3 linked regions of the Homo sapiens genome follow. The protein of the gene in region 2 purifies or fractionates together with the protein of the main gene of each other region. This does not show direct contact. Each region holds a gene or a part of one and is shown on either strand. Other genes may lie near its edges.

Region 1 (3,500 bases), on a different chromosome or scaffold from region 2:
GCTAAGGGCTTTACATACATTAGTGGCTAATTCTCACAACAATCCTCCAAGGGAGGTTTCACTATTCTCATTTTACACATAAAGGAACAGGAGTTAAAAGGAGTTAAGTACTTGCCCAAAGTCAGCTGGTTCATCAGGAACCGGGACTCAAGGTCTATGCAATTCCCAAGTCCATGCTCTATTACACCATATTAGCTGGGGGACATAATAGAGCCTTAAAGTGTTCTAAGACCAACAGAAGCAAAACAAGTGAGCTCCAGTTTCCAGCTGGGATCTACAACCTCAGGCAACTGAAGCTACCTAACCTCTATTTCCTCATACATTACAAAAAGAAAAAGAAGTTATCTTCCAACTCTAAGTTTAATGATTCCATCACTTTTTTCCTTTCTTTACTTTCTCTTTTTCCTCCTTCCTCTGCTACCTCCTAATATGGTCCAAAATGTGTTGGATACATCTATATTTTTTAAAGAAAAAGGATCTAAAATTGCATGCAATTATAGCACTGATCTTCCAAACAGAGATTAGACGGGCATGGTTTCTTATGTACTTCAAGAGATCAATTTTTCAGTCAGCTAAAAAAAAAAAAAACACATGGTTCTCCTTAGTAGTCGTTAGAGCAGTACTGGCTTACTGGGATAGAAATACAGTAATACACCACTTTTCAGAATTCAGGTTTCTGGCAACCCATCAGACAATTAACCAGTTCTGGGGAGAAGGGACAGCCAAGAAATATTTCCCAAAAAGACTTTCCTAAATGCACACTCAATTTATAAAGGACAATAATATATTACAAGCTTTTCTCATTTTGCAATCTTATGATCAAAATTGAAAGCTAATTTCTAAGATAATGAAGGACTATATTAGAGAAATAGAGAACATTTTCCATAATAACCTATCTCCTTCTCCACCACCACCACTCTGACAAAAATGGAAAACGAAAAAAACAAACAACAAAAAAAAAGTTGTAATTCTCTAACTTACTACCTTAAAAAAAAATGGTAATGGCCAGGCGCAGTGGCTCATGCCTGTAATCCCAGCACTTTGGGAGGCCAAGGCGGGCAGATCACCTGAGGTCGGGAGTTCAAGACCAGCCTGGCCAACATGGAGAAACCCCATCTCTACTAAAAATACAAAATTAGCTGGGCGTGGTGTCGGGCGCCTGTAATCCCAGCTACTCCGGAGGCTGAGGCAGGAGAATCGCTTGAACCCGGGAGACGGAGGTTGCAGTGAGCCGAGATCACGCCATTGCACTCCAGGCTGGGTGACCAAGGGCGAGACTCCGTCTCAAAAAAAAAAAAAAAAAATGGTAAATATATAGAAACAGTAACCAACCACTTAGGAAGCCAAAAAATAAAATGGTTTTTAACTTCCAGATACTAACCCCCAGTCATGATCTGTTACTAATTCCTTACCCTCTTCTTCTCACCCAACCTGGGGTTGGGGTGGAGATCTAAAATCCTTTACAGATGTTCCATCTAATTTCCAGACAAAATTATTACCTGTTTCCACACCTGTGTCTCCTGAGTGTGTCACCTCGTTAGGTTCAATTATTCTTAAATTTCTCAGTTGAAAATCCTGGTGATTCACCCTTAAGGAGAGAAAGAACAGGAAGTTGCAGACTTTGACCACAATAAACGTGGCAAGGCTCAGTTAGAGGAGGCATCGCTTAACTTAGCAGTTCTCTAACATGAGTCAGAAGAACTTTCACCCCCATTATCAGTGGCAGAATAAATAAAAGTTTGATGTAAAACTTGCAGGTGTAAAACATCCCCATGGCAGGTTAACCTTCTCAGTTGCAGCTTCTAGTTCATAAATTCTCACACCTCCTATTTAACTAGACTAAGAAGACTTATTTTCAATGTTTTTTCCTTACACAAGTTCTATTTGGTTCTTTTTCACATCTGCCCGTTCTTTCTTTATGGTGTCCTATTCTTGCACTCTGGTTTCTATGCCTTCTCTTTGTGCCTTCATTACTGTAGGCCCTTATTTTATAATTTCTCCCATACTTTCAAATAGATCTTGGGAGACTAACCCTCATGTTTGCTAGGTCTGCTGCCTCTCCCTCTTGGTGGTTCATTCCTTCTGCGTTTTGTGATCTTTTATTAAGAGCTTATCTTCAATAGAGGCTATTTATCTATGAGAATGTGATGGGTCCTGGTTTGTACAAGCAGTTCTGTTATTGTTTGCTTCTAAGACTTTCACATTAATTTATTAGCTAGAAGATTTACACACAAACTTCTTGTTCCCATATGGGGATAGTCTAATGCCCTGGACACCAGGCATGAAGGTCTATATCTGCATCTGGTAACTTTCCCAGGCTCAGGTTACTAGCATACCACTCAGGCGTTAGGTTCCCTCTACATTTTTGGCACTTGAGGATTTCTCTTTCTTTCAAGTTCATTCAGTCAACAAATATTTATTGAAAAATCTTCCATAATCCAGGCCCTATTCTGGACACAACAGTGAACAAAACAGACAAGATCTCTGACTTTAACAAATTAAGATGGGGCAAGGCAGGGGGATGGGCAGAAGACAGGGAAGAGAAGGCAACAGACACAAAACAAGTACACAATACGTCAAGTAATAAGAACGTGTTTTGTGAAAAAAAGTAAAGCACAGCAAGGGGAAGAAAGCATCAAGGAGGTAAGGGGAAGGATTATTTCATATGGGGTAGCCAGGGACAGCCTCTATTATAACAGACAACATTTTAACACAGACCTAAAAAGAGTGAGGAAGCAAGCCATGTGAACGGCTAGGGGAACAATGTTCCAGGACAACAGCAAGTGCAAAGGCCATGAGGCAGGAGTATGTCTAGTTTACCTGAGGAAAAGCAAGAAGGTCAGCGCAGTGTGATTGTATCAGGGGATGGGGAGGTAAGTGGTTCAGAGACAACATCATTGAGGCACCAGGGGGCCTACTGTGGGGCCATAGAAAAGGTTTTGAATTTTACTCAGCTATGAACTCAATTAAGTTATAATTTAACCGCATTTTTACATGTTGGTAAAGACAGAGAGGGACACATTAGCTCAGTCTACCACACGGTAAGAACCAGATAACCAGGCAGCTTTACCAATGACTCTAGGCCTGCTTTCATATGGCTGTGACTTTAGTTTTACTGGACAGAATGGGATGTTCTTAACGAGAGTAAACATATTATTCTTTCATAAAAAAGTAAGACACCCCAATATGTCTTCTAAAATATAAATACAAATATCCTCAACAAAATACCAGCAAACGGAATCTAGAACAATATAAAAAGGATCATCATCGCCAAGTGGGTCTTATCCCAGGAATACAAGGTTGGCTCAATATATGAAAAATCAATTATTATAACAGGCCATATCAATAGAATAAAGAACAAAATCTACATGGTCTTCTCAACAAACGCAGAAAAAGCACGACAAAATCCAATGCCCCTTCAAGTTAAAAGTACTCAGCAAACTAGAAGAAAAATTCCTCAACCTGACAAAAGTTATTACAAAACCTACAGCTAACATCAT
Region 2 (3,500 bases):
AAGCAAATAAAGTGGGAAGAGGGATGTGAAGACAGGGGATTAGGGGGGTGAAGACAGGGGGCTCACTGTTGGACAAGAAGTGTCGAGACAGGATAAATTCCAGGTCCTGGAATTTAAAGAAGGAATTAGGTAAGGAAGGAAGGGGAGGAAAGTTCCAGAAACACTGGAGACCCACTTTGATAACACTATCAAAGCCTCCTAGAGAGAGAGACAGAGAGCTTCTCAGTCCTCTGAGAATCCACAACATAGTCTGCACCTGTACCTCCTAAATGCCCAGCAGCAGCCACCTTCACCTCCCACCTCTGAGGGAGGTGCCAGCCTGGGGTGAGCAGGCCTAGGTAAAAGTGGTAGAAGGCCTGGCATGGTGGCATGCACCTGTAGTCCCAGCACTTTGAGAGGCCAAGGCGGTAGGACTGCTTGAGACCAGGAGTTTGAGACCAGCCTGGGTAACATAACGAGATCCCATCTCTATAAACAATTTAGCTGGGCGTGATGGCACGTGACTGTAGTCCCAGATACTTGGGAGGCTGAAGCTGGAGGACCGCTTGAGCCCATGAGTTTGAGGCTGTAGTAAGCTATGACTGCACCACTGCACTCCAGCCTGGGTGGCAGAGCAAGACTCAATTTCTTTTTAAAAAAAGAAAAAAAAAAAAAGTCCAGGAGCGGTGGCTCACGCCTGTAATCCCAGCACTTTGGGAAGCTGAGGCGGGTGGATCACAAGGTCAGGAGTTCAAGACCACCGTGGCCAATATGGTGAAACCCCGTCTCTACCAGAAATACAAAAATTAGCTGGGTGTGGTGGCAGGCGCCTATAATCTGAGCTACTCGGGAGAATCTCTTGAACCTGGGAGGCAGAGGTTGCAGTGAGCCGAGATTGTGCCACCGCACTCCAGCCTGGGCAACACAGCAAGACTCCGTCTCAAAAAAAAAAAAAAGTGTTAGGAGCTCAGCTCTTTATGGAACCTTCTGGGATGAGTGACTGCAGAGGCTACCTTCGCCACCACCCTATGATATGTTCTCAGCAGCACATGAGCACTGGGAGCTGGCTTTTCCCCCTCTCACAATAGACCAAAGGCGCAGCCACAGGAGCCCCCAGGCTTCAGTGCTAAGACCACCTTTACATTTTGTTTTCAGTCTCCGACAGGGTCTTGCACTGCACCTAACAAAAATGCGGGGTGAAGAAGTTCCAGCCAATGCCATCAACGGTACACTGCCAAGAGCAGAAAGGCATCGGGAAGCTTTCCCCAGTTTTCAGAGAGACACAGCTGACAAATGGAACCAGAGGCACTGCAGTTCCCAGGCGGGGCTTTAGGGGAGAGAGCTGCTCAGATTCACAACCAGGACCAGTCTTTCTACTGCCAGCTGGGCCGGAACAGATGGACTGGGTGCAGGCAACTGTCTATAACCTGGGAACATTTCAGTTAGTTTTGTTTGGAAACACTTGGGATAAAGCTACTTCATTCCCAGGGAATTAATTGTATTATTGTGCTGAATAAATGTGACCATATGGGAAAGTTTACAAATCACCTTATAAATAAGCACTAAAATCCATCCATCCAATAATGGGTGACTGAGGCCCATATACCGCACTCTTTCCAGCCTGTCGTGACTGTTAATTTGGCTATGCTGGGTTCTTATTTTTGTCTGGGTCCAGGAAAGCACCGGAGTGTGGGACCCAAGCGGTTCATGGTATAAGGATCACTGGAGAGTTTGGTAAAAGTAAAGGTTCCAGGCCAGGTGCAGTGGCTCACACCTATAATCCCAGTACTTCGGGAGGCCAAGGTGAAATGGATCACTTGAGGTCAGGAGTTTGAGACCATCCTGGCCAACATGGTGAAACCCCATCTCTAGTAAAAATACAAAAATTAGCCAGGCATGGTGGTGCACACCTGTAATCCCAGAGCTACTCAGGAGGCTGAGGCAGGAGAATCACTTGAACCCAGGAGGCAGAGGCTGCAGTGAGCCAAAATCATGCCACTGCACTCCAGCTGGGTGACAGAGCGAGACTCTGTCTCAAAAAAAATAACAGTTCCAGCCCTAGAAAGTCTGATTCAACGTGTCTCAGTGGAGCCCAGAAATGTGCATTTTTAACAGAGTCCAGGTAATTCTGAGACACTAAGTGGAAATACGGCCCAGGATTGGTACTGGGCATTTCATTTACTAGCGTGGACAAGTCTCTAAGAGTCTCAGATTCCTCATCTGTAAAACAGGTATACTACAGTGGCTCTTTCCCCTTTTTCTTATAAATGTACGTTTGTTTTTTTCTGTGCCCCAAAGCTACCCTTAAACACTAAAAACATTCTTACTAACAGCAATAATTTTCTCAGAAACATTCATAGTCTTGATCCATTCATAGTTGATGAAAGGAACACTTCTTTTTATTTTTTTGAGACGGAGTCTCACTTTGTTTCCAGGCTGGAGGGCAGTGGCACGATCTCGGCTCACTGCAACCTCCATCTCCCAGGTTCAAGCGATTCTCCTGCCTCAGTCTCCTGAGTAGCTGGGACTACTGGTGCATGCCACCACGTCCCACTAATTTTTGTATTTTTAGTAGAGACAGGATTTCACCAAGTTGGCCAGGGTGGTCTCGATCTCTTGACCTCGTGATCCGCCCACCTAGGCCTCCCAAAGTGCTGGAATTACAGGGGTGAGCCACCTCGCCGGGCTGAAAGGAACACTTCTATAGGTAAGTCGGCAATCGTCAAAAAGTAATTAGACTTTTAAAATAGTTGGGGATGGGGGCTGGGCGCAGTGGCTCATGCCTGTAATCCCAGCACTTTGGGAGGCTGAGGTGAGAGGATCACTTGAGCTCAGGAGTTCAAGGCCAGCCTGGGCAAGATAGCAAGACCTGGTCTCTACCAAAAAAAAAAAAAAAGTTGGGGGGTGGATGTGGATAGAAAAAAAAATACAGGCATACATCATTTTTTGTGCTTTGCTTTACTGCAATTTACAGATACTGTGTTTTTCTACAAATTGAAAGTTTGTGGCAACCTGTGTTTTAAGTCTATGGGAGTCATTTTTCCAATGGCATCTGCTCAATTTGTGTCACATTTTGATAATTCTTACAATATTTCAAACTTTTTCATTTTTAGTATGTTTGTTCTGGTGATGTGTGATTGACGATCTTTGATGTTACTGTTGTAATTGTGTTGGCCAAACCGTGGCCATGATGGTTCATGATGGTGTGTGTTCTCACTGCTTCACTGGACTGGCTGTTCCCCCTTCTCTCTCCCTCTCCTCTGGCTTCCCTATTCCCTGAGAAACAACAATATTGAAATTAGGACAATTAGTAACTACAGTGGCCTCTAAGTGTTCAAGTGAAGAGTTGCAGGTCTCTCACTTTAAATAAAAACCGAGAAATAATTAAACTTAGTGAGGAGGGTGTATTGAAAGCCAAGATAGGTCAAAAGCTAGGCCTCTTGAGCCAAACAGTTAGCCAAGCTGTGAATGCAAAGGAAAAGCTATTGAAGAAATTTAAAAGTGCTACTCCCGTGGATACA
Region 3 (3,010 bases), on a different chromosome or scaffold from region 2:
TTAAGTTGATTTCTTTTTTTTTTTGGAGACAGAGTCTCACTGTGTCGCCCAGGCTGGAGCGCAGTGGCTCCATCTTGGCTCACTGCAACCTCCGACTCCCGGGTTCAAGCAATTCTCCTGCCTCAGCCTCCCAAGTAGCTGGGACTACAGGCGCCCACCACCACACCCAGCTAATTTTTGTATTTTTTTCAGTAGAGACAGGGTTTCACTGTTTGGCCAGGCTGGTCTTGAACTCCTGACCTCATGATCTGCCCCACCTCGGCCTCCCAAAGTGCTGGGATTACAGGCTTGAGCCACCACACCCGGCCTTAAGTTGATTTCTATGTATGGCATTAAGGCAACAATCCAATTTCATTCTTTTGTATGTGGATGTCCAGTTTTCCCAACACTATTTGTTGAAGAGATTTTACTACATTTCTTTGTTTTATAGTTTTCCTTTATGATTTCCTACATTTGTGTGTTGGAAAGGCCTTCTCCACCACAAAATCACGAAAGTATTATCACATTTTCTTTAGTACTTTATTGTTTTACAAGTGAACCTTTAAGTTTCTCCCCACCTACTCCCGCAGAAAAAGGCATATTCAATTGTCCCATACTAATTTTTGAATAACCTAACTCTCCCTTTGTTTCTACTAAGAGAGGTTTCTTTTTGGCTACAAGTAACAATATACATATACCCAAAGCAAATGGAACAATATAAAGAATATCTCACATAACAAAAAGTCCAAAGGTAAAGCAGTTCCTGGATTGGTTAATTCAGAAGCACAATTCAGGTGCTTTCTATCTACATCCCACTATTCTCAGTGTGATAGCTTTCATCTCCATACTTGTCCTTTCATGGCCATCAGAAGGCTGTTGCAGATTAGCTTCAAACATCCATATCACATATCTTCACTGAGAAGCAGAAGAGGGATGCTGGCAAATCCCTAACTTGTATCAATTGTTAAGAGCAACAGAAAATTTCTTATTCAAAGCCTTCAGACTTCCTTTGTCTCGTTAGCCTAGATTCCATCAAATGATCAAGTAAGCCAATTACCATGATTGGCACAGAATCTAATCAACACTCACCCTCTCTAGGCTAGGGAAGCACCCTATTCTATAGCACAAGGCAGCCATACAGAGTTTTAGGCCAAAAAAAAAGAAAAAAAAAATGGGGCTTTGTCAGCAAGGAAGGGAGAACGAAATGGCTGATGGGTAGGCATATGAATGTCTAACAAACCAACTTATTTGAACCCAGCTTTTTCACACACACAATTCTCACACCTGTTTTATTTTGAAGTTCTCTATTGTGTTCTATTTTGATCTACTTCTGTGTCATTAGCTATTCCTGGGTCATTATGACTTTTAATAAACTTTATACATGTATATTTGGTAGGAACTTTCCTAAATTTTTTCAAAATTAAAATTTTTTCCCCAAAACATGTGAGAATTAGGATTGCAGTCATGCATTGCTTAGCAAAGGGGATACATTCTGAGAAATGCATCATCATTAGGAGATTTTAAAATTGTACAATCACAGAGTGTACTTACACAAACCTAGATGGTATGATCTACTATACACCTAAGCTATGGCCTATTGCTCCTAGGCTACAAACCTGTACAGCATATTATTGTAGTGAATACTGTAGGACACTGTAACACAATGGTAAGTACTTGCATATCTAAACATAAAGAAGGTACAGTAAAAATACAGTATTGTAATCTTATGGAACCACTGCCATATATGAGGTCTGTCACTGACTGAAACATCATTATAGGGCACATAACTAGAATTTAATAAATCAAGTTAAACAAATTATCTTTGTAATACTGTACCCTTCCATGAAAGGAAAATGGTATGCTTCTAACTTGAGTTTTCTTTAATGTCCTAAAGTACATTTTTATAGTTTTTATTTTGTGTTTTTAATATAATGTTTGGTATAGTCAATCTTCTTAATCTGCCATTTCTATGGCAGAGTACCCAGTGAAACATCTTGTTTGGTGTGTCAGTCACCCCCTGCTGCAGAGTTCCCTGTCACACAAATACATGCAAAAGGGTAATAAATAAATGGGAAACAAAGTATAGTTTTAGTAATCAACATGCAAGATTCTAACAAAAGCTGGAGATAACTGCTTATGCCAGATAATTTAAGTAAGAGAAAGTAAGTAGAAGAGGTGGTAAGAAAGATATATCAGATGAGCACTGACCCCAAACCACTAAGATGATATGGTCCAAAGAATGTCAGAATGACTAATTCAATTATCCAACTCTGCTCAGCTGGAAGAGGAAAGAAGGGAATAAAGATGTTAGATCCTTTACCAGGACTTCCATGCACGGGGAGAGAAGTTGAAAGTCAAAACTGTAACAGGAATAAATACAAAAATTCTTTCCAAACATACCTAATATTCTTTGGCCCTAGAGTCACTGAATTCACATTTAAACTAATCTATATTTCATTTTGATTACATTAATGGAGCTCTGAAGGAATGAAACCTATTAAAGAAAAATTAAATTTATAAACAATTTAGGCAGTCATATATGTATTTATATATACACACATACAATGTATATATGAAATCCTTATACAGGTGTAAACATTCTTAATAAATTATAAGCAATAAAATAAAAAAAATTTAGTATGTTTGCTTTTTAAAATAAAACAAATTCATACTTTATCAAAATTTGTTCATTCTTCTCACAAATAATTCTGTTGGTACATAATTTTCTCTCATGCTAATTCAACAAACCCTGAGCTTTGTTTCTCCATCTATGGCTAAATACATATCACTCTAACCAAATAAAAAGGTTTAAAATAAGGGCCCTGCATCTTGGTGTCTGGTTATTTGAAATCCGGTTTTCATTTTGAATAGTTTTGGTTAAGTGTATGTCATGGCAGAATGTCCCTTCATCTCCTTTGATCTGTGTTAAATTGATAAAAATACATGCTTACTCCTGTACAAACATCGAACAATGTAATTAAATCATCACTACTTGAAATACTTTTACATGAATAATTTATCTCTTTACACT

The links. The genes of interacting proteins can lie anywhere in the genome.
Region 1: the proteins of MTHFD1L (region 2) and XPNPEP1 fractionate together in Homo sapiens (co-fractionation; one large-scale study listed by BioGRID). This does not show direct contact.
Region 3: the proteins of MTHFD1L (region 2) and TRAPPC6B purify together in Homo sapiens (affinity purification with mass spectrometry; one large-scale study listed by BioGRID and IntAct). This does not show direct contact.

What each region holds. Positions count from the first base shown.
Region 1 is NC_000010.11:109,913,512-109,917,011, forward strand, and holds part of XPNPEP1 (xaa-Pro aminopeptidase 1), read right to left. Parts: intron 1,589-3,500; coding exon 1,500-1,588; intron 1-1,499. UniProt on the Homo sapiens protein: Metalloaminopeptidase that catalyzes the removal of a penultimate prolyl residue from the N-termini of peptides, such as Arg-Pro-Pro. Contributes to the degradation of bradykinin.
Region 2 is NC_000006.12:150,872,202-150,875,701, reverse strand, and holds part of MTHFD1L (monofunctional C1-tetrahydrofolate synthase, mitochondrial isoform 2 precursor), read right to left. Parts: intron 1-3,500. UniProt on the Homo sapiens protein: May provide the missing metabolic reaction required to link the mitochondria and the cytoplasm in the mammalian model of one-carbon folate metabolism complementing thus the enzymatic activities of MTHFD2.
Region 3 is NC_000014.9:39,147,314-39,150,323, forward strand, and holds the end of TRAPPC6B (trafficking protein particle complex subunit 6B), read right to left. Parts: 3' UTR 501-3,010; downstream 1-500. UniProt on the Homo sapiens protein: Component of a transport protein particle (TRAPP) complex that may function in specific stages of inter-organelle traffic.